Homo sapiens: one gene and its partners. The protein of the gene in region 1 purifies or fractionates together with the protein of each later gene. This does not show direct contact. Each region holds a gene or a part of one and is shown in the gene's direction. Other genes may lie near its edges. The genes, in order: GLYR1, H1-4, SERPINA12 and BLK.

Region 1 (7,133 bases):
GCCTCAACCTCCCAAGCTAAAGCGATCCTCCTACCTCAGCCTCCCTAGTAGTTGGAACTACAGGCGTGCTAATTTTTGTATTTTTTGTAGGGACGTTGTTTTGCCATGTTGCCCAGACTGGTTTTGAACTCCTGCTGGGATTACAGGTGTGAGCCACTGAGCCCAGCCTATATGGTCATTTATAGATATTTTTTCACATTTACTTCATTAACCCCAGATGAATTTGCTATGCTATAAAGTATGAGGAGAGGCTGTAACTTGGTTTCTTCCAGCATCAATCACTAAACAATCCTTCCTTCCTCTGCTGATTTGGCATATATTGCAAAGCAACATCACAGATATCTAAGGCCTGTTTCTGAAGTCCATGTGTCATATTAATACGGTATTTAGAGATTCTTTAATCAGTATTGCACTGTTTTGTAAAGTTTCATACTTTAATGTTGCAAAGTTAAAGCTCATGTTTATTATCCTTCTTTATAAATAATACTTTGCCATTCCAGCCTATGTATTATTTTGGCAGGTTTCAAAAAAACTCACTGTATTTTGGTTGTAAATCAATCACAAATGTGAGTTAATTCAGGAAAATTAGCATATATCGTATATATCCACATACATGTAGACGTATTTGTATATATCCAATATTCATTTGTCGAATTATGATCACAAAATCAACTTATAACATCACATAAGGGAACAAAATATCTACAAATGAAGAGTTAAAATAATTCTAATCAGGCGGCAAAACGATTAGCAGTGTAACAGGCTGGCGCTGCAAAAGACCATCTCCCAACACGTACTAAGATGTTAAAGGAGATTTCCCTAAAAGAAATCTCCAAGGCCCTCAGGATATTTGTGATGCGCTGGGTTGTGGAAATAAATCCCAGCTGAAGGCTTACAGATTCCCCCACTGATAGAACCGGAACAGTCTCACTATAAGAAGGGAATCAGCAAGTTAACCAATGGGATGCAGGAAGGTCATCCTTGAATTGGCAACCAGGTCCTACTCCCCCTGTCCAGGCAGTAAACACATAACCTTATCTCAGTCCAAGTCTGAGAGACTGCAGCTTCAATCCTAGATGGCAAAACTGCTCCTTTCAGTTGCTTAAGTGACTCTCCAGGCCCAAGAAGGTAAAAAATAGGACTACAGGATAAAGTGAGTCAAATCTGTACTCTATTACCACTTAGATTTGGGGTTGTTTTATAATCATTATAATGTTCTGCTGTTACTAAGCCATTTGAAACATTTAAGAGAATCCAATATATTTAACAATGGTACGTTAGACTTACAATCATAATTCAAAATGCTTAAGAAAATATAATTAAGTTCAAACATGTTTGAATGCTTAAAAAAAACTTACATTTATCTATTAGACTTACGAGAGTTGCCTAAGTCCTTGGAAAGATTTTAGCTTTTTTTGTGGTTTTTTTTTTTTTTTTTGTGAGACAGTTGCCTCACTCCTGTTGCCCAGGCTGGAGTGCAGTGGCACCATGAGAGCTCACTGCAGCCTCAACTTCCCGGACCCAGCACTTTGGGAGGCTAAGGCAGGATGATCGCTGGAGCCTAGGAGTTTAAGACCAGCCTGGACAACATGATGAGACTTCATCTGCACAAAAAAATTTTTTTTAAATTAGCCAGGTATGGTGGCACACCCCTGTAGTCTTGGCTACTAAGGAGGCTGAGGTGGGAGGATGGCTTTAGACTGGGAAGGTCCAGGCTGCAGTGAGCCGTGATCCTGCCACTGCACTCCAGCCTGGGCGACAAGAGTGAAACTCCGTCTCAAACAAAAAAAAGAAAAAAACAAAGATCCCCCTTTAAAAACCTCAGTTGGTGTTACTGAGAAAATACTAGCCTTCCTTGTCCCTTGGTTATCCTCAGCAATTTTTAATTTTTTCTTACTATATATATATATATCTCCTTCTAAACATTGTATTTTCAAACTGGTTATTGATGAAACAGAAAAACTAAATTGTGCATTCCAACTTATAATGAGTACCCTTCCTGAATTCTTATTTTAATGGGTTTTTTGGTTTTTGTTTTTGTTTTCAAAATAGGCAGACCTATCATCCACGGAAATGAGAATTCTGTCTTCCCTTTTCCAAAAATTGCATTTCTTATTTTTGTTTCCTGTCTTACTGCACTGGCTAGAACTTTCAGGTTTTAGGCAATATATTCTTATTATCTAATAGTGGTAGAAATGTACCATGTTTCTGATGTTAAGGGGAATGCCTCTAGGTTTTGGTGCAATGTTCATTTGAGATTTTTTTTTCTTTTTTCTTTTTGGCGGGGGGACGAGTCTCGCTCGCTCTGTCGCCTAGCTGGAGTGCAGTGACATAATCTCGGCTCACGGCAACCTCCGCTTCCCGGGTTAAGCGATTCTCCTGCCTCAGCCTCCCAAGTAGCTGGGACTACAGGCATGCGCCACCACGCCCGGCTAATTTTGTATTTTTAGTAGAGTACTGGGTTTGACCGTGTTGGCCAGGCTGGTCTCGAACTCCTGATCTCAGGTGGTCCACCCGCCTCGGCATCCCAAAATGCTGGGATTACAGGCTTATACCACCCTGCCCGGCCAAGATTCATGTTTTTATTTAAGTTATTAAAATCTCATTCAATTCCTCACAAATTCAGAATTTTTAAACAGGAACTTATGTTAAATTTTTATCAAATTATTCCCTGGAATCTTAAATACGCTTTAAAGATCACTTTGTCTTAAAAATACACACGCAGTAAATGACAGTCCGTGCAGCTAATTCTTGGTACTTCAGGGAAACTGATCTCCCAAGAAAAATCAGGCTGCGGGACGACCCAGTACGCTAAACACCGACTTGCAACCGAAATCTCTAACCACCACAATGCCTTGGGGAAATGCGTGTCGACTCGCCACCTTTGCCAGCTGGCAGTGACTCAACAAGAGCCCGACACCAAGTCTAAGTCAATCCTTAACACTGTGGAGTCTGTGATCGGGACTGGGATCTTTTGCAAAATTGTGATTCTACCTGGTCTGCTGAAGTTTGGGCCGACGCTGCGCTCAACTGCAGTTAACACTTCCCAGTTCATGGTTCAGTTTTAAAGTGTCCAAACTACGCCCGGCATCTGTCTTCCTGTTGTCACAACTTTTTCAAAAGTGCAAAACTAGGGCAAGGCTAACGAGAGAGCCCGGACCCGACAACGACACGCACCTTTGTCCCCAGCGCCGACGCGGGCCGCAGACGTCCCCCCGCGGCGGTCCTCATGCCGGTCCCCGGGCGGCGGCGCAGCTAGCGGTCGGCTGCTAAGCCGTGGCTCCCAGCGGGCGGGCGGCCCGCGCCTCGGCCCATGGCCGGGTCCCCGAGCCCAGGGGAGCCTGGTGTGCCGCGCCGCGCGCCGGCCCAGGAGGAAGCGAAGAAATGCCAACTCGACGTCCGCGCAGCCACTCCGGGGACACCAGGGGGTCGGGGGAGCAGCCTCCGGTCGCCCCAGGAGAACTTGCGGCGCGGGACCCCGCGCTCAGACGGCGCCTCCGAAAGCGGCCGTCGGGAGGAGCGCTCCAAAGAACACGGGCGGCGGGAGCGGACGGGCGCGGACACCGGGGCCTCCCGGCCTGCGGCCAAGCAGAGTTGCCGGGCGCGGGAGCCCAGACCCGGCGGAGGCTGAGTTCCAGGCCGCGCCGAGCTCCGTCAGGGTAGCTCACTGGCGCTGCGACGGGGCCGACCAGCGCCTCGGGCTCGGGAATGGCCCCGGGGCCCGCGCCGGACCAACGGGCGTAACGGAAGCGCCGAGAGGGGAGGGGCGCGGAGTCCAAGACCCGGGGGCGGGGCGAGCCGCGAGGCCGGCTCCCTCTCGCGCTCAGCCGGTCGCACCGTCGCCGCCGCCGCCGCCTCAGACCGCGGGCGCTTCGTTGTCACGAGCCGAAGGGAGGGGGAAGGAGCCGGGAGTCTCTGCGCTCCGGCGCGCGGAGACCGCGGCGCTCGCGTCACGTGCCCCTCGGTCGACCAATGATCCCCGGCGGGCGCGGTGACGTCAGAGTAGCGGCGTGGCCAGTGACAGCCGGCCCCCGTCACGTGGTCGGGCCCACTCCAATGGGCGGCGCCGGGGCGACTTGCTGTTCCCGGCGGCCCGTGCGTCGGCGGTGGTTGGGTGGTAAGATGGCGGCTGTGAGTCTGCGGCTCGGCGACTTGGTGTGGTGAGTCCGAGCGGCCGGGCCAACCGAGACGCGCCGGGGAGCTACCCGCCTGGGCGCGGGGTTCGCTGCCGGCCCTGGAGCTGCCTTTTTATGCGCTCCAGGTCGCGGAGAGAGGGGAAGAGAAGGTGCCGGCGCTTGCGAGCGGCGCCAGGCGGAAGGGGCAGTCCAGTCCCGGGGGACCGAGGCCGAGGGTGGCCACGTCGGGCACCGGCTTTGATCCCCGAGGCCGGCCGGGTGGGGTCTGCACTCGGGGCCCAGATACTGGCGGCCCCCGTGAAGGGAGCCGCCGGTGCCGCGAGGCTTCCCCGGACGACCGGTCCCCGGGGTCTTGTTGGGGCTTCCCAGAAAGCAGAAGCGCCGGGGACCGGACCTGCGAGATCTGGCCGGTGCCATTCGGTCAAAGCCCAGGTTGCGATGCAGCCGACCTGTGCGGCCGGCTCAGCCGGGGTTGTCTAAACCGGACTGCTGGCGTTGCCCCGCGAAGAAACGGCGGGGGGACTTCTCCTTTACAACCGATGGCTTGGCAGTGACCAGTGCACGCTTGGGTGCCTCCCGCGGTCTGCTTCTGTGTCCCAGACAACCGCCCGAACCAAGACTTTGTCGCCGCCTCCCTCGAGCTGCGTAGCTTGTTTCTCCACCCAGAGGAAGGCTTCCATTAGCATTTGTCAAAGCCAGGCAGGTCTCCTGTTGAATTAAACCAGACTTAGGGAGGGAAAGTCTGTGTTTACAGAGGAAGCTGTCCTCCCACCCCCGTCATTAAGAAGCTCTAGACAAGTGACTTTTGACAGTTGTGTTGTTCTGTATTCCTTGTCAACAGAAGAATGGATATGCGTTGTGCACATAAGTATACAATTTTGCATTTTACTTCTGAGGGTGTTGGGCCCAGCTATGAAAGCTTTTGTTTCGGCATTTGAGGATGCCAGCAGAGATTTAGGAAAATAAATTGCGTATTGAGTGGGTTGAAGGAGATGGACTGGCTTTTGCAGGGCAAGTGTTGACTCTTTGTGTTTTCTCTAGGGGGAAACTCGGCCGATATCCTCCTTGGCCAGGAAAGGTGAGTGTCTTGCTACTAAAGGAAGAGATCTGAAGTTGGGTTTGAAGAGGTGGAGAATGTAAGATGCATTCCTCTCAGTTTCTAGTATTGAGTTAAATTGGGCTCATTCAGATGGCACTTAGAATTTTTTTTCCCCTAGTATCGGTTATTTTTTAAAAGGCAATGCAGTATACACCAGATCATTAAATCTTCTCTAAACCCTTATTTCTGGATTTAGAGGAGGTTTATGAAGTTTCTTTTTTAACCCCGGAAATAATTCTAGTCTGAATTTAGCTTTATGCTTAAATGTAACAAAAGGAGAAGAAAATATAAATTATCCAGGAAGAAAGTCTAAATGTAGGTTAGTGAAAAGCCAAAGTATTTTTGTCCCAACTAAGTTTAAATCTTCTTTCCATGTTACCATATGTGCTACTCCAGTGCCTCTTTGCAGAAGTTGGCATTCCAGATTTTGCATGAGGTGATCCATCATTGCTTTCCAAATGTTGTGTTTTTATATTCTTGCTTGGAGCCCGGGAGGTGTCTTTAGATGGTCTCTTTGCAATATGGTGTTTTCTGTGCCTCGGTTGTCCTTTGTTTTCACTATGTCCTGTGTCAACCCTTCCTGCACAGGAAGTATTTCAAAGAGTGTCGTCTGCATTTTTTCAGTAATAATGGGGTCACATTGGAGCAGGGGTGGGGTGGTGGGGGGCAGGGGATGCTGTTGATCTTAGTTTTAACTGCTTGTAAAACAGGGCCACTGCAGTAAAAGGGATATTGTGTCTACTGAGCACTGTGCTACATGTTAAATATTGGGAACTTCTAGAATATCTACACATTTCCATACACCTCAATAGAAAAATGGGAGATTTAGACAAGTACTAGGCCTTGGGTTCTGTTTTGTATATAAATAAATTTATTTGTAAGTAAGTCCTTTTAATTTACTTTTTTCTTAGCAACGTAGAACTGTAGAGCAATGTGGAGCCACTAGAAAGTGGGCTGCTGTGTTGCCAGCCAACCTTTTTCCCCCCTTTTATCCTCCAGATTGTTAATCCACCAAAGGACTTGAAGAAACCTCGCGGAAAGAAATGCTTCTTTGTGAAATTTTTTGGAACAGAAGATCAGTGAGTAGTACTCACCAGGAGTCTCCCTTCGCCTTTCTTTCTGTGTTACCTGGAGTCTGAGCTGCTTTGAAAATATTCTAAGGATCCTTAGTTCAGTCTTCTTATAATGTGTAATACTGGCATCTCATTCTGCCTTCATACCTAAATAAAGGTGCAATTTCTTGCAGAAATTGCCCTAGACAACTGTCCTAGGTCTATAACTAAGTCAGGCAAGAACTAGGTTCATTTACCTTCTAACTATAACAATCACATTGAAACAGTTTCTCACATGTTTCTTTACCCAACTCCAAAGGCAGTTCCTTTTTGTTTGTTTTTGAGACAGAGACTTAGTCTGTCACCCAGCCTGGAGTGCAGAGGCAGTCTCAGTTCACCGCAACCTCTGCCTCACTGACTCAAGCGGTTCTCTCACCTCAGCCTCCCGAGTAGCTGGGACCACAGGTGTGCACCACCATGCCCAGCTAATTTTTTGTAGAGGGGGTTTTACCATGTTGCCCAGGATGTTCTTGAACTCCTGGACTCAAGCAATCCACCTGCCTTGGCCTCCCAAAGTGCTGGATTATAGGCGTGAGCCACTGCGCCCAGCTGGCAATTATTTTTATAAAAGCCATGTTCAGTTCTCTTTTAATGCCATATATCATTATGGTTCATGCTTGGGGTATACAGTGGAAACTTTTATTTATGTTAATAAAAGTAATTGTTCAATCATGTTCTCATGTGTAAAACTAAGTGATTTGCTTTGACATTGTTATAGTAAGTCTTTTTACCAGATCTGTCCTAAGTTGGGGAAACCAGGACCATTAATCTGAGACTCTGACCATA
Region 2 (6,186 bases), on another chromosome or scaffold:
TTTTTGGTTTAGTTTTCTATATTTCTTTTGCACAAATGAATAGAAAATTGTCTGTTTTCTTATACTCCCTTCTTTCTCAGCAAAGGTCATTATATTAAGTATATTCTTTTGGACTTTGCCTTATCACTTAAATGTATATCCTGGAATTGATACTAGTTCATAGAGATCTTAGTCATTTTTGTAGCTGCATATTACTGCACTGTGTAAATGCATCCTACTTTATCCAACCACTCTCTTATGTGGGGCATTAAAGTTTTTTGAAATATTTTATAATTCCAAACATTGCTGTGATGAATAACCATGGGTGTGCAAACCACAGTGTTAATTATTGACTTAAGTAAAAAGGAAACAATGTTGAAGATACTATATAGTCCATCTGTCTAGCATAAAGCACCTCTTTTCCAAACTCTATCTTTAATGAAACAATCATGGTAACATCATATTAAAATACAGAAATTCAGAATTAAGCTCTTTGACTGCAGAACTGTGAGGTAAAAGCAACCAAGCACAATCTTCTCTTTTATTTCAACTTTTCTGCAAATCACATTGTTCCCCTTAGTTCATAGTCATATTTGTAGCTGCATATTACTGCTATCATGTCCAAAATAAAAACAATTAGAGTGTCCCCCATTTTCCACCACTCAGGGTACCTTAGAGACTTTAAAAATGTCAATGATATCAAATTACTTTCTTAGCTCATTAAAGAATAACATACTTGATAATATTTTATGACTATAAAAGCTCAAGAAATTGCACAAGGAAGACATACTGTGGACATGTGAACAGGCACAGTAGAAATGTCTTTTACTAAGGGGCCTAACACACCAAGATTTGTGTATATAACTAAAACTACATGCAACGAAAACTGGTATTTTATATTCTATTCTATTTCACTAAAAAGAGAAATATTTTGTCCTTGACAACTAAACTGATTTCACAACTTTTCATGCTTGTTCAGACCTGTAGTTTGAGAAAACACTGTTTAATAAGCATACATGCTTTGAAGTAAAACCAACGTGTGCTGGAATCTGCAATGTACCTCTTACCAACAGTTTTCTCAAGAGAACTTGTTAACCTCTGCATGTCCATTTCCTACTTTGTAAAGTAGAAATACTATCCATAACAGAGGATTGTTACACTGACTAAGTAAGAATGCAGGTAACTCAGGCTGCAGCCCAGTTGTGGGGGAAAAAAAATTTCAGATAGCATGTAGTACAGTAGCCAACAAATGGGAAGGATGACTATCATTAAAAATGATAAAATGGATAAGGAATGTAGATGCTGTACTAGAGGATTCAAGTAGTCCATAAGCAGCCAAGGTTCAGTCTACCTTCTGTGGTTGGAAAATAATGACTCATTGGATGCTTAACTTTAGTTACTCTCCTTTCTCCTTCTTCAGCCCACTATAGTGGCCAGCCAGGTGTGAATCAAAGGAAGTCAAGATTGGACTAATGCTGTCCCCGTCTTTCCAATATATGGTCATATTCAGCATGGATATCTTTTCTAAGATCTCACAGACACGCCCAGAAATCCCTGGGAGAACTCACGTGACAGGAAGCACATTTGCCCTATTGGTCATCTCTAGTGAGTTCAGCAGAGTTGCCAAACTTGGCTCGGCATAAGAGTGGCATGAGAAAACTGATAAATATTCAGATTCTGAGGACCTACTGAAGAGTTATTATGTCAGAATAATCTTGAGCAAGGCCTCAGAATCTATGTTTAAAACACATGCATGACTGGGTGGTTCATACCTGTAATCCCAGCAGTTTGGGAGGCCGAGGCGGGTGGATCACCTGATATCAGGAGTTGGAGACCAGCCTGACCAACATGGTGAAACCCTGTCTCTACTAAAAATACAAAAATTAGCTGGGTGTGGTGGCGGGCACCTGTAATCCCAGCTACTTGGGCGGCTGAGACAGGAGAATCGCTTGAACCCGGGAAGTGGACTTTGCAGTGAGCAGAAATCGCTCCATTGATTGCACTCTAGCCTCGGTGACAAGAGCGAAACTCCATCTCAAAAAAATAATAACAAAATAAAAAATAGAACACATGCATGAACATGTGTGTGTGCACACACGCCTAGTTCTGAGATAGCCAGCCCGCTGACCAATAAGAAAGTAAGGCCTTTTGTTATTGTTCCTATTTCATCACCGACAAGTGTCAAATAGATGCTTGATTTCATAGTGGTCAATCCTCAATCTCTGTCACCAAGGCTCGAGAGCACGTTCACTGCAACCTCCGCCTTCCTGGTTCAAGGGCTTTTCCTGCCTCAGCCTCCCGAGTAGCTGGGATTACACCACCACACCTAACTATTATTATTATTATTATTATTATTATTATTATTATTTTATTTTAGCAGAGATGGGGTTTCACCTTGTTGGTCAGGCTGGCCTCGGACTCCTGATCTCAAGTCATCCATTCGCCTCAGCATCTCAAAGTGCTAGGATTACCGGCGTGAGCCACCTCTCCCAGCCCATGCATTTGGAGGCAGAGGCAGTGGTTGCAGTGAACCAAGATCGCGCCATTGCACTCCAGCCTGGGTGACACAGTGAGACTCTGTCTCAAAAAAAGAAAAGAAAAGTAAAGTAAAGAAAACACACCACACCTTAAGGAGGCAAGCAGTGGAAGTTGAAAGACCACAGAATTTGGAGAGTTTAACTCCTTCCTAGCCATGAGGAATACACTGGATAAAGTGAGGCATGTGAAAGCAAACTTCCATGTGTTGTGTAAGTTTCAGTCATTTACAGGAGTGGTTTTTGTTGTCATTAAATAGGTATAATATTACCATTCTGGAATCAAATGCCCATATAATCAGTTTCCCTAGTCTGTTTTGGAGATTTATCCATCTCCCTTTTTATTTCAATAAATACCAAAGGGCATATTTATTTTTGCACTGATGTGCAATAATTAGATTGAAAATACACATCAAGATATTAAAAACATTGATAATTTACATCACTTTTATAACAAATTCAACATTAAACAGTACTGTTTTGATACATTTCACTCGTGTTATATCAAAATTCTATATTCTCCTTATTTCAGTAGCAGAATTTGTGTCTGGAGATTTTGGGCAATGAAATTAAAATTTAAAATGATATCCAACGCCATATTACAATCAACCACGTCCACAGAACAGTATCATATCACCTTATAGCACTGGGCAAAATTTTATTTTGTTTCCATGATAAGTGGCTTGTAGTTCCACCCATACTGTTCCAGCCATATCGTTTTTCAGAAAAAATTCTTTTTTTTTTTTTTTTTGAGACGGAGTCTTGCTCTTTCGCCTAGGCCTGACTGCAGTGGCACTATCTAGGCTCACTGCAAGCTCCGCCTCCCGGGTTCACGCCATTCTCCTGCCTCAGTCTCCCGAGTAGCTGGGACTGCAGGCGCCCGCCACCGCACCCGGCTAATTTTTTGTACTTTTAGTAGATACAGGGTTTCACCGTGTTAGCCAGGATGGTCTTGATCTCCTGACCTCGTGATCCGCCCGTCTCGGCCTCCCAAAGTGCTGGGATTACAGGCGTGAGCCACCGCGCCCGGACCAGAAATAATTCTTTTGGTTGGGCTTTCATTGCCAGCTTACATACACTCTTCTTGATTGGGCAACTACCTAAAGAAATTCACTCAGACATTGTTCAAAGGATGTTTTCAGAGGGCAATGATTTATAATAGCTTAGATAGACTCTCAAAGCTCTACTTCTGAGATCGAAATTTGAACTTGTCGTTTAATCACTACATGTCACTTATTTTTCTTTCTATTGAGCTCTGGGAAGCATTGGAATACAATCTTCAGGGGGATTGAAACCATACGTGGTGAGTGGACTAGTCATTCCTCAACTATTCAGTAATAATAGGGGCTGGGTTTCACTAATAATGGGAGTAGATGTTTCAATCTACGTTTCTTATTTATTTTGCCTTATCATCAATGCTTGAATTTCAGCTCTAAGCTACTTTATTGCAATTTGGTTCTGAAGCATATGCCAAAAGCACTCAGCAAGGCTGCAGACAAATGCTTTAAAGTAAAGTGCACCTCCACTTCCAGTGACTTTATGAACATCACATTTGAAAATTAATCCTTTTTCATCTCTGTACCCTGAGTACATTTTGGACTTCCCTTCGTTCCCAAATACCCTGAATTCAAGGTATCTCAATCCATGGAGCAATTGTCCAGAGGAAGAGAGAAGCAACAGCCCCGCCCCCAACCCTTGGGAGCAGAAAGGGAAAGAATTATCCAAAGAATTGTTTAAAAACTCAGATGTAGCGGACAGATGTAAAACCATGGCTGTATAGATTGATGTCCCAGGGGTCCAAAACTTAATCTCAAATGGGCAATAATTTGTTTGGCATTAAACTAAACCAGTTTGATGAACTCAAATGCCCTCGGCTCAATAGGCAGGACTCTCCGAGGAGCCTGTGTTACTTCCCTCACTTAAGTGCAGATTTGTAATAAAAATCTTAATGCCAGTGGCATGCTTTTTGGATATATAAGAAGCTAACCACTTGGAGTATCATATTTGAGAGGTCAGAAAAGTCCACAGTTAAAGATCGGTTTATAATTTACGAAGAAAATAGAAAGTTTTGTTTCTCTGAGTTGAAATTTGCCAAGCACGGCGGGAAATATTGCAAGTTTTTGGCACAAGGCTTTGTGCTTCCCTTATAATTTGAGATCTGCGTGAAGCCTGAGGGTTCGGGGATCATTATCTGAGAAAAACCGGGCAGTTCGGTGTAGACAATTTTTATATTTTTGGCTTTTTTTGAGGTGTAACAAACACAACTCGGGATCCGAGAGGACACTCTGCGGCTGCCAGCGAGGCGGGCTGGACAGCGCACCAATCACGGCGCAGCTCCGCCCTATATAAACGGGCGGGCGCAGCGCCGCGGCTCGAGTCCCGGCCAGTGCCTCTGCTTCCGGCTCGAATTGCTCTCGCTCACGCTTGCCTTCAACATGTCCGAGACTGCGCCTGCCGCGCCCGCTGCTCCGGCCCCTGCCGAGAAGACTCCCGTGAAGAAGAAGGCCCGCAAGTCTGCAGGTGCGGCCAAGCGCAAAGCGTCTGGGCCCCCGGTGTCCGAGCTCATTACTAAAGCTGTTGCCGCCTCCAAGGAGCGCAGCGGCGTATCTTTGGCCGCTCTCAAGAAAGCGCTGGCAGCCGCTGGCTATGACGTGGAGAAGAACAACAGCCGCATCAAGCTGGGTCTCAAGAGCCTGGTGAGCAAGGGCACCCTGGTGCAGACCAAGGGCACCGGCGCGTCGGGTTCCTTCAAACTCAACAAGAAGGCGGCCTCTGGGGAAGCCAAGCCTAAGGCTAAAAAGGCAGGCGCGGCCAAGGCCAAGAAGCCAGCAGGAGCGGCGAAGAAGCCCAAGAAGGCGACGGGGGCGGCCACCCCCAAGAAGAGCGCCAAGAAGACCCCAAAGAAGGCGAAGAAGCCGGCTGCAGCTGCTGGAGCCAAAAAAGCGAAAAGCCCGAAAAAGGCGAAAGCAGCCAAGCCAAAAAAGGCGCCCAAGAGCCCAGCGAAGGCCAAAGCAGTTAAACCCAAGGCGGCTAAACCAAAGACCGCCAAGCCCAAGGCAGCCAAGCCAAAGAAGGCGGCAGCCAAGAAAAAGTAGAAAGTTCCTTTGGCCAACTGCTTAGAAGCCCAACACAACCCAAAGGCTCTTTTCAGAGCCACCCACCGCTCTCAGTAAAAGAGCTGTTGCACTATTAGGGGGCGTGGCTCGGGAAAACGCTGCTAAGCAGGGGCGGGTCTCCCGGGAACAAAGTCGGGGAGAGGAGTGGGATTTTGTGTGTCTCCGGAGCTATTTTTGACTAAGGCGTCGCGTCGCCCAAGCCGGAGTGCAGTGGCGTCATCTCGATTTTGCGTTCTCGAGTGTCGGAGTTGAACCCATTTGGGCCTCCCTTGTGCTTTGCACTTTTAGCAGGCCCTGGCCTCCAGATAGCATGGGAAAAAAAATGTTGGGATTTTCCCGGGTTTCTAAGCTGGGTTTTTCCGAGTTCCAAACACGGCACAGTGTATCAGTTTCTGTGCTGGTTACAAGCCTACTGGTTATCCCTATCGAGTATGGCAGGCAGTGAGGGACTTCAGAGGAGTACGTCTTAGGACAAGTGGCATAGTACTGACATTATTTCCGAAGGGCTACATTTCAAGTGCTTGGGGAGACTACTGCCACATAACTGAAAATTAGAA
Region 3 (5,691 bases), on another chromosome or scaffold:
ATGCAAGAAGACAAAGCAGGTGTCTGCCTTCTGTGCAGGCAGGCCTGTATGGCTTGTGCTGGCCTGCAGGAAATCTCAATGCTATTATTTTTCCCAACATAAAAGCTTCTCTTGACCTCTGCTTTCCCCCAGTTATTCCTCCATTTCGTCACTCCCCCTTTGCAGGTGAATACCATGAAGCAGTTGCCTCTGTTCACAGCCCCTAGTTCCTCTCATCCTCTCCTAAATCCACTCCAGTCCAGCTTCTGCACCCACTTCTCACAGAAAGCTCCCTTCCCAGGGTCCCAAGGGTGTCTGTGTTGCAGAGTGCAGTCAGTCTCAGGCCTCGCTCTTCGGCTGGTTTCTGTCCCCACCTCCTTAAGGCACTCTTCATTTGGCTTCCAGCTCTCCACTCTCACATCACCTCCCACCTCTCCCCTCCTCAATCTCCTTTGCTGGAGACCCCTCTCCTCCTCCAGGTCTCAGAGGTGAGTGTCTCAGGGCTCAGTTCCCAGCCTTCTTTTCTGTCTATACTTACCCCTGAGTGAGCTCACAGGCTAAGAGCTTTAAACACCATCTCTATTACCACGACTGCCATGCTTCCATCCCCAGCCCCTGTTCTCCCCCAAATTCCAGAGTCGTGGATCTTTCTGTTTACCCAGAATGTCCCCAGGATGTGTAATTGGAGCTTAGTGTCAACACATCCAGAATGACTTCCTGATCTGTCCCCAGAGAACCTCCCCAAGCCTGCCCATCTCAATCAGTGGTGACTCCATCTTTTTAGTTGCTCAAGCCAAAAACCTTGGAGTCACCCTGACCACCCTCAAATGCCTCATTCAGTCTGTCAGGAAACTCCTTTAGCCTACAGCAAACCACATCTGGAATTTGGTATCTTTCCGCCGTCTCTGTGGCTCCCAACATGTGACTACCACACTAGCTTCCAAATGGTCTCCCAGCATCAATTTTTGCCCATCCCCACTACACACACCACCACCACCAAGAGTATATTCTTAACAGAGGCAACAGAATGATCCTTTTAAATCCTAAGCAAGACTATGTCACTCCTCTGTTCAAAACCCGACAGTGACTCCCCATTTTATTCAGGAAAAAAAACCCCAATTTGTCTAACTCTCTTGCCTGCCTCAAGGTTTGCTCAAACTTTGGACCAATCCTCGATTCCTGCAAGTCAATCTATTTATTTTTTTCCATAGCACTTACTGCCTTCTGCATACCGCTAGTACATGTATGTAGGCTTAAGTGGTACTTTTTGTTGTGTTGATTCTATCACCTGTCTTCCCTGCTAGAACACACAGTCAGGGGCAGGGATCTTTGCCTGCTCTGTTCATAGATGCATCTCCAGCACCTAGAACAGCACCTGGTATACAGTAGAGATTTAATAAATGTTTGTTGAGTGAATGAATGAGTGGAAAGGTAAATTTGGGAGTCGTTGGGCCTGTTGATGATATTCAAAGCTGTGAGACTGAATGACATGTATGGGGATGGAGTGAAGGTGGAAAAGAGAAGGGGACCAAGGTCTGAGCCTGGAAGCAGCAGTGTCACCGGTAGAGATGGGAGGGGTGGAGCCCGACAGGGGCAGGAGTGGTGGGGAAGGAGGAGAAGCCTCAAGGGGTGGACCTGGAATGCTTCACCTTGGAGAAAGGGATTACCATCACGTGCGGCTCACTGAGAGCTGGCTCTGGGACGTGGGGCTGGTTGTCAACGGTGACTCTGGAAAGAGTTGCTTCCATAAAAAGTTGAGGTCAAAGAGCCGACTGGAGTGGACTGAGGCAATTGTGGGAGGGAGTGGAGATAGCTGCTATAAAAGGAAGAAAAGAAATGAGCTGGAAGCTGGAGAGGCTATTCAGGGCCAAGAGAGATCTCTTGGTGTTAGTTTTTGAGGATAGGGTCACTCTAGCATGAGGCCTCCTCCAGAGGAGGATCAAAGGGGCACTGTTTAAGGATGATGCAGGAGAGAGAGGACACATAGGCAGGAATGAGATCCTTGGGTAGGTGGGAAAATAGGGTGCAAGGCCAGGTGAACGGGAATCCAGGGTCTGCAGGTACCTCAGGAGAGCCTGGGCCCCAGGCTCCGGGCAGGAGGCTGATCGCGGTTCAGCCACAGAGGATGTGAAGCTGCTAGTTGGAGGGCAGGAGGATGGGCACCTGCTACGCACCAACTGTCTGCTGAGTGCCTTGTCTGCATTTGCCTTAGCACCCCTAGTGTCCCGCAGGAGCGACGGTGATCATTTTCCTTCTCACACAAGTGACTTAGAGAGGGAAGGTCACAGAGCTCATGAGAGGCAGAGTGGATTTGAACTCAGTTCTGTCTACCTCCAGATTCTGGGTGCCTTGTTCCCTCCAGTGTCAGGTCTTCTGGGGTCAGGATGGGCTCAGGGCTCAGGCATGGCAGCGACTACAGTGTGGACATCATCAGTGACTGTGGCTGAAGGGGCTCTGAGACGGGGGAACTTGAGACTTGAGAACACTCCCTGTAGAGGGCTCTGGGGCAGGTGTGCTGGGAGGCAGGGACACGGTTCAGAGAGCTTATGGTGTTTTGAAACCAGGGTCCCAGGGTTAAGGAGCCCCTCCTCATTCTGTGGATGGAGAGAGATTGGAGACCTTTGGGGCTGGGAGGACACATGTTTCATTGGTCATGTATCCTGAGGCTTGCCCTGCAACACAACAGGACTTGACCACTCACCCTTGTCGTGTCAATTCCCCAGGGTCGTAGACGTGTCTGTACCCAGACTCCACATGACGGGCACCTTCGACCTGAAGAAGACTCTCTCCTACATAGGTGTCTCCAAAATCTTTGAGGAACATGGTGATCTCACCAAGATCGCCCCTCATCGCAGCCTGAAAGTGGGCGAGGTAAGCCTGCCTAGCCTGGACTCCACTCCCTGCAGCACAGGGGCCTTCCCCCAGCCGGGGCCAGAGCCAGGGTCACAGTGGCTGTCAGAGCCGAGACTCCACCCACCAGTCGGGGCGGGCATGAATGCAGCTGTGCCCCTTACCAACCCCGTGATCCTGGGCAAACCACATAACCTCCCCCAGCCTCATGCTTCCAGTCTTTAAAACTGCTGCTATTTTGGAAATCAATTCAATGTAGCAAACGTTGATCAAGGCCTGGAACAGTTATCAGGCCTAGAACTGGTCTAGGTCTAACCCAGACCCTCTCTCAAAGGCCACATCCGTCTTTCTTTCTTTCTTTTCTTTCTTTCTTTCTCTTTCTTTCTCTCTTTCTCTCTCTCTTTCTTTCCTCTTTCTCTCTCTCTTTCTCTCTTTCTTTCTTTTTCTTTCTCTGTCTCTCTCTCTCTTTTTTTCTTTCTTTCTTTCTTTCTCTCTCTCTCTCTCTCTTCCTTCCTTCCTTCCTTTCTTTCTTTTATTTTGTTTTTTGAAGGAGTCTTGCACTGTCACCCAGGCTGGAGTACAGTGGTGCGATCTCAGCTCACTGCAACCTCCACCTCCCAGGTTCAAGCAATTCTCCTGCCTCAGCCTCCCGAGTAGCTGGGATTACAGGCGCCCGCCACCATGCCCGGCTAATTTTTTTGTATTTTTAGTAGAGACAGGGTTTCACCATGTTGGCCAGGCTGGTCTCAAACTCCTGACCTCAGGTCATCCACCCACCTTGGCCTCCCAAAGTGCTGGGATTACAGGCGTGAGCCACCGCGCCCAAGGCCACATGTTTCATATGAGTTGGCATAAGCATATGCTGCATAGGAAGAGATGACCAAGCAAAGGGGCCTGTGGCCCCTGGCAAAGGTGAGCACCTGACTGTCTGGGGCAAGAAGAGAGCACCATATAGGTAGAGTCACCGGATTTAGCAGATTTCATACAGGATACCCAATTAAATTTGAATTTTAGATAAATGATGAATAATATTTTTAGTGCCAGTATGTTCAGAATATTTCACGGGACACACTTACACTAAAACATATTCATTGTTTATCTTGAATTCAAATTTCAGTGGATGTCCTGTATTTCACCTGGCAACCCTACTTTGGGGTTAAAAAGGCATTGAAGGAGGGGAAAGATTTCAACAAGCAGAGATGGGTGCGGGGATGGGTGCAGCAGTGTGGCCAAGGCTGGGGGTTTTTGGATATCATGGAGTAGTGGGTGGTGGGGATTGGGTGCTTAGTGGAGATAAAGTGGGAGGTTCAAGCCAGTCTGGGAAGGATCCAGCTTGCCAAGCTGAGCCCGCTGCTCTGAATCAGATGGCACAGATTCCACTGTATTTTTCACGTTGACATAAGAAACATAGTTACTAGAATTTTCTCACTTTTGAGCTTTCCTGCCACAGACTTCCCACAAACATTTAACACCAGCTCTGAAGGTCTTGTTGAGTTTAATGGCTCATTTCTTTCTGTAGTTACGTTTGCTGATAGCTGTGATTGTAACACAGGATACTGTCCTGTTTTCTGCAAGTAAAATTGTGAGAATTTTGTAGGCTAGCAAGAAATGTGCCAGGATTTCACACATGCCCGTTAGTTTCCCAGTACTGATCACCTGTTTACAGACGTTGATGCCTTTGGAGTGGATTTGGGATGCAAGTCATCTCAAAGAGCTAATCCAGAATCCTTCTCCCTCTTAACCATCCACCAGGTGGATGAAAGGAGGTGCTGGAGGCTTCAGGGTGGGGGTACCACCACCTCACTTTCACCCAGCTACAGCCCAGTAGACCTTTCTGCCACGGCTATGGTTGATGCTTCCCTGTAACCCATGAGAAAGAGAAGCAAACCCCACTCCATCTCTCCCCCCACCGACTCCCGTAACTGATGCTCCCCCTGCACCATCTTTTCCTTCACACGGCATCTGCTTGTCGAATATTCTCCAGCATTAATGGCGAAAGAGCCAGGAACCCTGGAGTAAACCAAGTTACTGCTGTGCTGGATGGCTTGGGCCAAGTGGTCTTCCTCTCTGATCCTCTCTGGGCCTCCGGCCCACTGTGGTCGCCAAGGAGCTTGGCAGACCTTGACTTTGCCCTTGGCTTCCGTAGGCTGTGCACAAGGCTGAGCTGAAGATGGATGAGAGGGGTACGGAAGGGGCCGCTGGCACCGGAGCACAGACTCTGCCCATGGAGACACCACTCGTCGTCAAGATAGACAAACCCTATCTGCTGCTGATTTACAGCGAGAAAATACCTTCCGTGCTCTTCCTGGGAAAGATTGTTAACCCTATTGGAAAATAAAGGAGAATTCCTGCTTGCCACAGACCCCGAACATGGCTTGGGGTTGAACATGTTCCATCTTCCTGAGATGGAAGTCACAGGCACATTTCAGTTTAGTCTCTCCCTGTCACCACCTCCCTAGACAGCCCGAATGAGCAAAACTGCAAGTTCTAGAAGTCCTGTGCCCCATTTCCTCCCTGCCCATTCAAATGCTGGGATGCAATGCCCCACCCCCGCCCACTTGGTGGCATTCTCCTCTCCCCTCCAGCGGGCAGAGGGACTCTGTGATTTAGTAAACAAATGTTTCTCCCCCACAGCCCTGCCCCAGGTTGACTGGCTGTTGGTGGATAATTTGGGGAAGGTATGGGCCACAGCAAGTACCTGGGGTCTCGAGTGAGAGACTGGGGTTCAAATCCTGGAATGAGGTATCTTTGGGAAAGCCACAAACCCTCTCTGAGTCTGTCTTCTTATTTCTGAAGTGAAGGTCCCGCCCCTCCCTTTGGGGCTCCAAGGAAGCTAGTTCAGTGCTTTAACAAAGTCGGTCC
Region 4 (7,042 bases), on another chromosome or scaffold:
GCTCCTGCTTGCCTGAATCCCTTCCCCACCTTCCCACCTAGGCAACTTGCATTTGCTCTGACGTCCAGGGCAGGTGCGAATGTCTCCTCCCAGTCACAGTGCCCAAGCCCATTTGTGTGTCCCCAGCAACCACCAGCACACACCCAGGGCTCTGGTTTGCAGGCCTGCCAGGTTCTCTGGACCAAAGCTCCTGAGGACAAGGACATGCCCTACATGTGCCTCCAGGTCCCAGCACCCAGCGCAGTGCCTGGCCCACCAGGGGTATCTGGTAAAGTGGTTCTTGAGTTAAAGACACAAGGGCAAAACCTTAAATGAAAATCAAGGTTAAGACATGAGGATGAAAGCTTGAAAGAGGAAAAGCAAAGATAATTGAATGATCATCCCTAATCGTGGTGCACCCCAGTGCCATCAGCATGCTGGGGTTTTGACAGGACCCTTGGAAGAAAGAGAAGAGGCATCTGAGGCCTCTGGCACATTCCACTTCCTGTAAGACAGTGTGGTATAGATGAAAGCATTGGGGCTTCCTGCCAGCCAGGTCAGTCTGGCTCTGCACCTGCCAGCTGGGAGTGTGAAGTGGGAGCAGTTGCACCCACTCTCAAGCACAGACATGAGAACTGAACAGAACCACGGAATGGGGGTCCAGAGCCCAAGACATAGACGAGGCTCCTCCTTGTCCACTGTGGGGCTTGTGCAACCCCTTCATCAAAGCGCTGGTGCTTTCCACATTGTAATCAAGGAAGTTTTCTCACGTTCCTTCTCATCACAACTAGCTGCTGGCCTTTTTGCACACTTTGGCACCTAGGATGCTGAACCTGGACCAGTGGGAGGCAAACAAGACACACCTGGGATGCAAAATGTAAGGAGGCTCCCATGCTCAGGTCGTTCAAGTGCAGGAAAAGTTTGTGTATGTGTGAAACGCACAATGCCATGTGGTGTCTATAAGGGCATTTGAGGTTCTGTGCTTAATAGATGAAGTGGGTTCTGAGCATTGAGTCTGTGGATTCCTGATGAGTTTCCTGGTGCTCTGAGCTCCGTGAACTTGTAAACAAGCTTTTGTGTAGGTGGGTACTTACAGTTTTTGTCAGATTCCCAAAGGGGTCTGTGAACCCCAAAATATTTGGAATCACACAGTCAAATATCTAGGAAGACTACTTTAATTTTCTCTCTCAGCGTGTTGTGGATATGAGGAAGTGGAAAGGACTTGGACATAGAAGTCAGACAAAGCAGCCACATCTGAGTGGTCTCGTCCTGCAGTGTAGTGGTTAGACGGCTGGCCTTGTCAACCAGAGGGCTCCAGTGCAAGGTTCAGCCCTGGCAATGTGAGCAAGTCACTGTGTGCCTTCCTGAGATGATAATAGTTTGACCCCACTGTATACGAGCAGCCTTACCTGTCTCGGGTAGGTTAATTATATCCTCTCAGTCTTATTTCTTCATTCATTGATAATAGCACATCACAGGATTAACAGAATTAAATTACAAAGCCCTAATTTTTAGGTGAGTTGAAGCTGAGGAGCACACAACTTTTCTTACAGGGTGCACTCAATTCTCAATGTCAGAACCACCAGGGGGTCCTTGTACTTCAAAAAGACACATCTTACATGACAACTTCTTTGATTTACTTTTATGCCCAATATTCATTTTGAAACCTCACAAAGGAGAGCATGGTGTTGTTGTTTCTCAAAAGAGAAAGTAAATTTAGTAAGATTGAGAGCCATGAACCTAGACACAGTCACAGGGCACATAAGATTTCGGTCAATCACAGACTACATATATGATGGTGGTCTCATAAGATGAAGACACTGTATTTTGCCTGTACCTGTTCTATGTTTAGAGACACAAATATTCACCACTGTGTTACTACTGCCTGCAGTATTTAGTACAGTCGCAGGCTGTGTAGGTGTGTAGCCTAGAAGCAACCGGCTATGCCACAGAGCCTAGGGGTGGAGTAGGCTCTACCATCTAAGTTTTGTATACGATGTTCGCAGAACAACAAAATCACCTAATGACACATTTTTCAGAACAGATCCCTGTAGTGAAGCAATACGTAACTATATTTTGGGAACTTCCCCTGTATCCAGATAGTCAGTCCAAGAGCTGTGTGTTTGGATCTCACAGTGCTTGAGATCCTGAGAGAATCTCATTTCCTGAGTCAGATGTGGGCATTCTTTCTTGGCATGGGTACACTGCCGTGGCTTGTGCTGAAGGCTGCATAAGAAACAGAGGTTGGAAACTCACAGTGGAATTTATTGCTGAGATGACGTTAAGCTGTTCGCATTCCACCCAGGACCTCCACAGGAGAAGCCCAGAGAGGATGACTCTCAGACTCCAGATCCAGGAAATCCATGCCTCTCTGGAGCAATGGATGTCTTACAGACACTGTGACTCTTCAAACTGATTATTTTCTTCTTTGTGCTTGGACTCCAGGACACTTAGAACCCAATTTGCATCTAACCACTAGCAGTTTGGTGACAGCATGTCACAGTTTGTATTTCTGTGCACCAGCTTTATACACATTTTTTTTTCTGCCCTAACTTACCCTTTGGTCTAATTTCTTTATCTGTTTTTCTATCCTGTTGTATTGTATGTATTTTTATAAGCGGTCTCAAATCTTTTCTGGAAACACTAGGAAATGAATATATAAACAAATACAAGCAGGACAGCATTTCTGAAAGAGCCTGATATACAGTGAGGGTGCTCACTAAGGATTAGTTCCCTATCTGTGTACAAAACAGAAAAATTCACTGAGGGAGCCAACCTGCAGTCAAATGTCCAGCTGTGAGTCTATTACAGTTATAGAAATAGCTTATTTTTACACATATTCCACCTTAGATTGATTTGGGGGGTGTTTGTTTTTGTTGTTGTTGTTTGAGACAAGGTCTCACTCTGTTGCCCAGGCTGGAGTGCAATGGTTTGATCTCAGCTCACTACATCCTCCGCCTCCCGGGTTCAAGCAACTCTCCCACCTCAGCCTCCCGAGTAGCTAGGACTACAGGTGTGCACCACCACGCCCTGCTAATTTTTGTATTTTTTTGATAGAGACAGGGTTTCATCATGTTGGCCAGGCTGGTCTCAAACTCTGGACCTCAAGTGATCTGCCTGCCTTGGCCTCCCAAAGTGTTGGGATTACAAGCATAAACCACTGCACCTGGCCTGTTTTTTTGTTTTGTTTTATTTTGTTTTTGTTTGTTTGAGATAGGGTCTCGCTCTGCCTCCCAGGCTGGAGTGCAGTGGTGTAATCATGGCTCACTGCAGCCTCCACTTCCCCAGCTCAGGCAATCCTCCCACCTCAGCCTCCCAAGTAGTTGGGACCACAGGTGTGCACCACCACGCCTGGCTAATTTTGGTTTTTGTAGAGATGGGTTTTTACCATGTTGTCTAGGCTGGTCTCAACCTCCTGAGCTCAAGCAATCTGCCTGCCTCAGCCTCCCAAAGTGCTGGGATTACAGGCATGAGTGACCATGCCTGGCTCTACCTTTTATGTTAAAGTTTATATAAATTATTTCATTTTAAGATTCTTTTATTCCTGCCATTTCTGTGGTGCAATTGGATTTTTACATAAAGTTAAATAATACTTTTTATTTTGGCCAGGCGTGGTGGCTCACACCTGTAATCCCAGCACTTTGGGAGGCCAAGGTGGGAGGATTGCTTGAGGTCAGGGGTTCGAGACCAGCCTGGCCAACATGGTGAAACCCCATCTCTACCAAAAATACAAAAATTAGCTGGGCATGGTGGCAGGCACCTGTAATCCCAGCTACTCAGAAGGCTGAGGCAGGAGAATTGCTTGAACCCAGGAGATCTCAGCAGTGAGCTGAGACTGCCGCTGCACTCCAGCTTGGACGACAGAGTGAAAAAAATTAAAAATTAAATGATACTTTTAATTTTATTTACTATTTTATTTGAATAAATAAAAGGATCCTTTAAAAAGTATTACACACGAAAATAGGGTCAAAAGTCATAGCCCATTTTCTTGATTTTATTTGGTGCTTTATGGGAAAGGCTAAACTCTCTCTCTTTTTTTTTTTTTTAACACATTAGCATGGAAAGGAATCATTTCTACTTTGTGGTGTCTGTCTGTCTGTCTATCTGATGGGCTCTCTGGCACCTGCCAGCACACTGGGGGAAGTGTGAGGTCAAGATAGGCATCTTGTAGATGAAGAGCATGGCGTCCTGGTAAACGTTTAACAACCAGCTTTCCAGGAAACAAATGTATTGTATACATACATAAGTTTATAGTAACATGTACTGATATAAAGGATGCGTAGCACTTAATTTACAAATAATAACAAAATATGCAATAGTCTCTGTCCTAAATACCGCAGAGGTGATTGAGTCTCATAGAAAGCTCTCGTGACTTTGCACTGTCATATCCGTAGCCAAGCATTGGTTGCAGCAGATGAGCAAGTGTGGTGTTGGCACAAACACTGAAATGTTCATTCATGTTAAGGAGCAGATCAAAGTGAAACAACAAAGAGTTGGGGCAGGCTGCAGCCTTAGTGCCATGAGCGGCTTCTTTGTTGAACTGGGTAGTAGTTTTTCAATATTCAGAAAAGTTTCCTCAATGTTTTGTGCTACTCACAGTGTTCTAGCTACAGACAAGATGCTCTTTTAAGCATAGAAAATCCATGAAACAAATCACTGCCGACCTGTAGCATTTGCCTGTTCCTGTTGTATAAATACTCCCACCAGGGCCAATTTCAAGTTGCTAACATGACTTGCGTGAACATGGGTTCGAGATGCGCAGCAGCACAGCACGATAGAGTACTTCCGCCTTATAGACACAGTCAGTTAAAGAACCTCAAAGCATAGCTATTATTAAGATGCAGTAAAAATAATCAGGAAGTGATGAGGTTTAAGTATTTATAACCTTTGTTTTAATAGAATCCATTTAGTTGTATCTTGTATAATTCAACTTTAATTTTTTATCATTTTAATTTTATATAGTTTTTTTTTCTTTTTCTTTCTTTTTTATTTTTCTTTGAGAAGGAGTCTTACTCTGTTGCCCAGGCTGCAGTGCAGTGGCACGATCTCTGGTCACTGCAACTTCCACCTCCTGGGTTTAAGGGATTCTCCTGCCTCATCCTCCCAATTAGCTGGGATTACAGGCACCCGCCACCATGCCTGGCTAATTTTTGTATTTTAAGTAGAGTTAGCCAGGCTGGTCTTGAACTCCTGACCTCAAGTGATCTGCCCAGTTCGGCCTCCCAAACTGCTGGGATTACAGACATGAGCCACCACGCCCGGCCCGTATAGTTTTTATACCTTAATCTTGCATAATGATTTGAATAATTCAGCTCACAAAATTCCTGAGAATTTAACAACCGGCTCTAGCATACCGGCACAAGCTGGCCCCCAGTGCATCACTGACGGGGAGGCCGAGTGTCTTGAGGCCACACTGCAGATCAGGGTCCTGCCTGCAGCCAAGTGGGGACAAGTGGAGAATAACTTGCCTCCTGGGCTCTCCTGAGTCCCGAGCCTGACAGCGGAGGCCCAGGTGGGTGACCCTGCTTTGTGCTCGGTGGCAGGGGAAGGGGGGTGGGCCTGTGGGCCTGGATGGAGAACCTGTCCCCATGGCTGTCATGTCCCTACACCAGCTGCTGCCAGCCACTGTGGGGTTCGCAAGTCCCCACTCGCAAAACGGCTACTGTTTTCCACAACCATGGGATACAAGGATGTCCCCTTGGGCTCCTTCTCATCTCTACTCTCTGCTGGCCTCTTTGCACAGATTGATACCTGGGATGCTGAGCCAGGACCAGAGGGAGGTAAAGACACACCTGGGGTGCAAAACTGAAGGAGGCCCTGATGCTTGAGGTTGTTCAAGTGCAGAGAATGTTTGTGTATGTGTGAAGCACACAACCACACGTAGCATCTAAAAGGACATTTGATGTTCTGCACTTAATAGATTAAGCTGGTTCTGACCTTCTAGCCCCTGGGCTTCTGATGAGTCTCCTGGTAGCCTGTCAGCTCCTGATCTTGGATGGGAGCTTGTGTGTAGGTGGGCACTCTTCTGCAAAGTGCGTTTATGGCTTTTATCTGGTTTCCTCTGATCAGAAAGATCTGGGGGTGCTGGCACACCCAGACGACTAGTAACTCCCAAAGGGAGAGGTGCAGCTTTGTCACCTGCCCCTGTGTCAGGTGGGACGTGAGATGCTCTATTTTTTTCTGCTCCATCCTGTGCCCAAGCCTTATACAGGGTGACCCTTTTCAGAGAGGCCTTTGCCACCAGGTCAGTGTGAGCATGTGGCTGGGTGATTTCCTGCCGTGGACCAGGGATCTGTGTGCTGTCTGAAGTAAGCAAGGGTGCTCTTTCTTGGCAAGGTCTGAGGGCTGAGACTTGCAAGGAGACACCTGCTCTCTTGGTCACCAGACTGGAGGTTCCTATGTGCAGGTGTGGAGGATGGAAGAGGTCACTCTGTCCTCTTTCTTGCCTGGGCCTCACCTCTGCTGAGGCTGCTGGCTGCCCTGGGCTCGCAGTGAAAGGGGCCATCTTCCACCCTCCCCTGCTGGTCAAGTGCATCTTTCCAGGTTCCGGCACTCCACGTTGCCACCCAGACAAGTGTCCTGTGGGAACTAGCAAGTGGGAATCAAAACTACCCCCAGAGAGGCTCCTGGCCGGGAGATGAAGGGATCTACCCTGGGGCTAAAGTCTCCCCAGCCTTTCTTGGAGCTTAGGTCCTGGCTTTAGAAAGATCCCATTCACATCCAGGCACAGTGGCACACACCTGTAATCTCAGTACTTTGGGAGGCCGAGGCAGGCGGATCACTTGAGGTCAGGAGTTTGAGACTGGTCTGGCCAACATGGCGAAACTGTCTCTACTCAAAATGCAAAAATTAGCTGGGTGTGGTGGTGTGCGACTGTAATCCCAGCTACTCAGGAGGCTGAGGTAGGAGAATTGCTTGAACCCAAGGAGGCAAAGGTTGCAGTGAGCTGAGATCGCACCATTGCACTCCAGCTTGAGCAACAGAGCGAGATTCCATCTCAAAATAAAGAAAGGAAGGGAGGAAGGAAGGAAGGAAGGAAGGAAGAAAGAAAAGAAAAGAAAAG

The links.
Region 2: the proteins of GLYR1 (region 1) and H1-4 purify together in Homo sapiens (affinity purification with mass spectrometry; 2 studies listed by BioGRID and IntAct, with this or other methods). This does not show direct contact.
Region 3: the proteins of GLYR1 (region 1) and SERPINA12 purify together in Homo sapiens (affinity purification with mass spectrometry; 3 studies listed by BioGRID and IntAct, with this or other methods). This does not show direct contact.
Region 4: the proteins of GLYR1 (region 1) and BLK purify together in Homo sapiens (affinity purification with mass spectrometry; 2 studies listed by BioGRID and IntAct, with this or other methods). This does not show direct contact.

The regions. Positions count from the first base shown.
Region 1 is NC_000016.10:4,844,255-4,851,387, reverse strand, and holds the start of GLYR1 (cytokine-like nuclear factor N-PAC), read left to right. Parts: upstream 1-4,099; 5' UTR 4,100-4,122; coding exon 4,123-4,160; intron 4,161-5,177; coding exon 5,178-5,214; intron 5,215-6,234; coding exon 6,235-6,314; intron 6,315-7,133. UniProt on the Homo sapiens protein: Cytokine-like nuclear factor with chromatin gene reader activity involved in chromatin modification and regulation of gene expression. Acts as a nucleosome-destabilizing factor that is recruited to genes during transcriptional activation.
Region 2 is NC_000006.12:26,151,443-26,157,628, forward strand, and holds H1-4 (histone H1.4), read left to right. Parts: upstream 1-4,886; 5' UTR 4,887-4,948; coding exon 4,949-5,608; 3' UTR 5,609-5,673; downstream 5,674-6,186. UniProt on the Homo sapiens protein: Histone H1 protein binds to linker DNA between nucleosomes forming the macromolecular structure known as the chromatin fiber. Histones H1 are necessary for the condensation of nucleosome chains into higher-order structured fibers.
Region 3 is NC_000014.9:94,486,779-94,492,469, reverse strand, and holds the end of SERPINA12 (serpin A12 precursor), read left to right. Parts: intron 1-2,702; coding exon 2,703-2,850; intron 2,851-4,975; coding exon 4,976-5,167; 3' UTR 5,168-5,191; downstream 5,192-5,691. UniProt on the Homo sapiens protein: Adipokine that modulates insulin action by specifically inhibiting its target protease KLK7 in white adipose tissues.
Region 4 is NC_000008.11:11,497,345-11,504,386, forward strand, and holds part of BLK (tyrosine-protein kinase Blk), read left to right. Parts: intron 1-7,042. UniProt on the Homo sapiens protein: Non-receptor tyrosine kinase involved in B-lymphocyte development, differentiation and signaling. B-cell receptor (BCR) signaling requires a tight regulation of several protein tyrosine kinases and phosphatases, and associated coreceptors.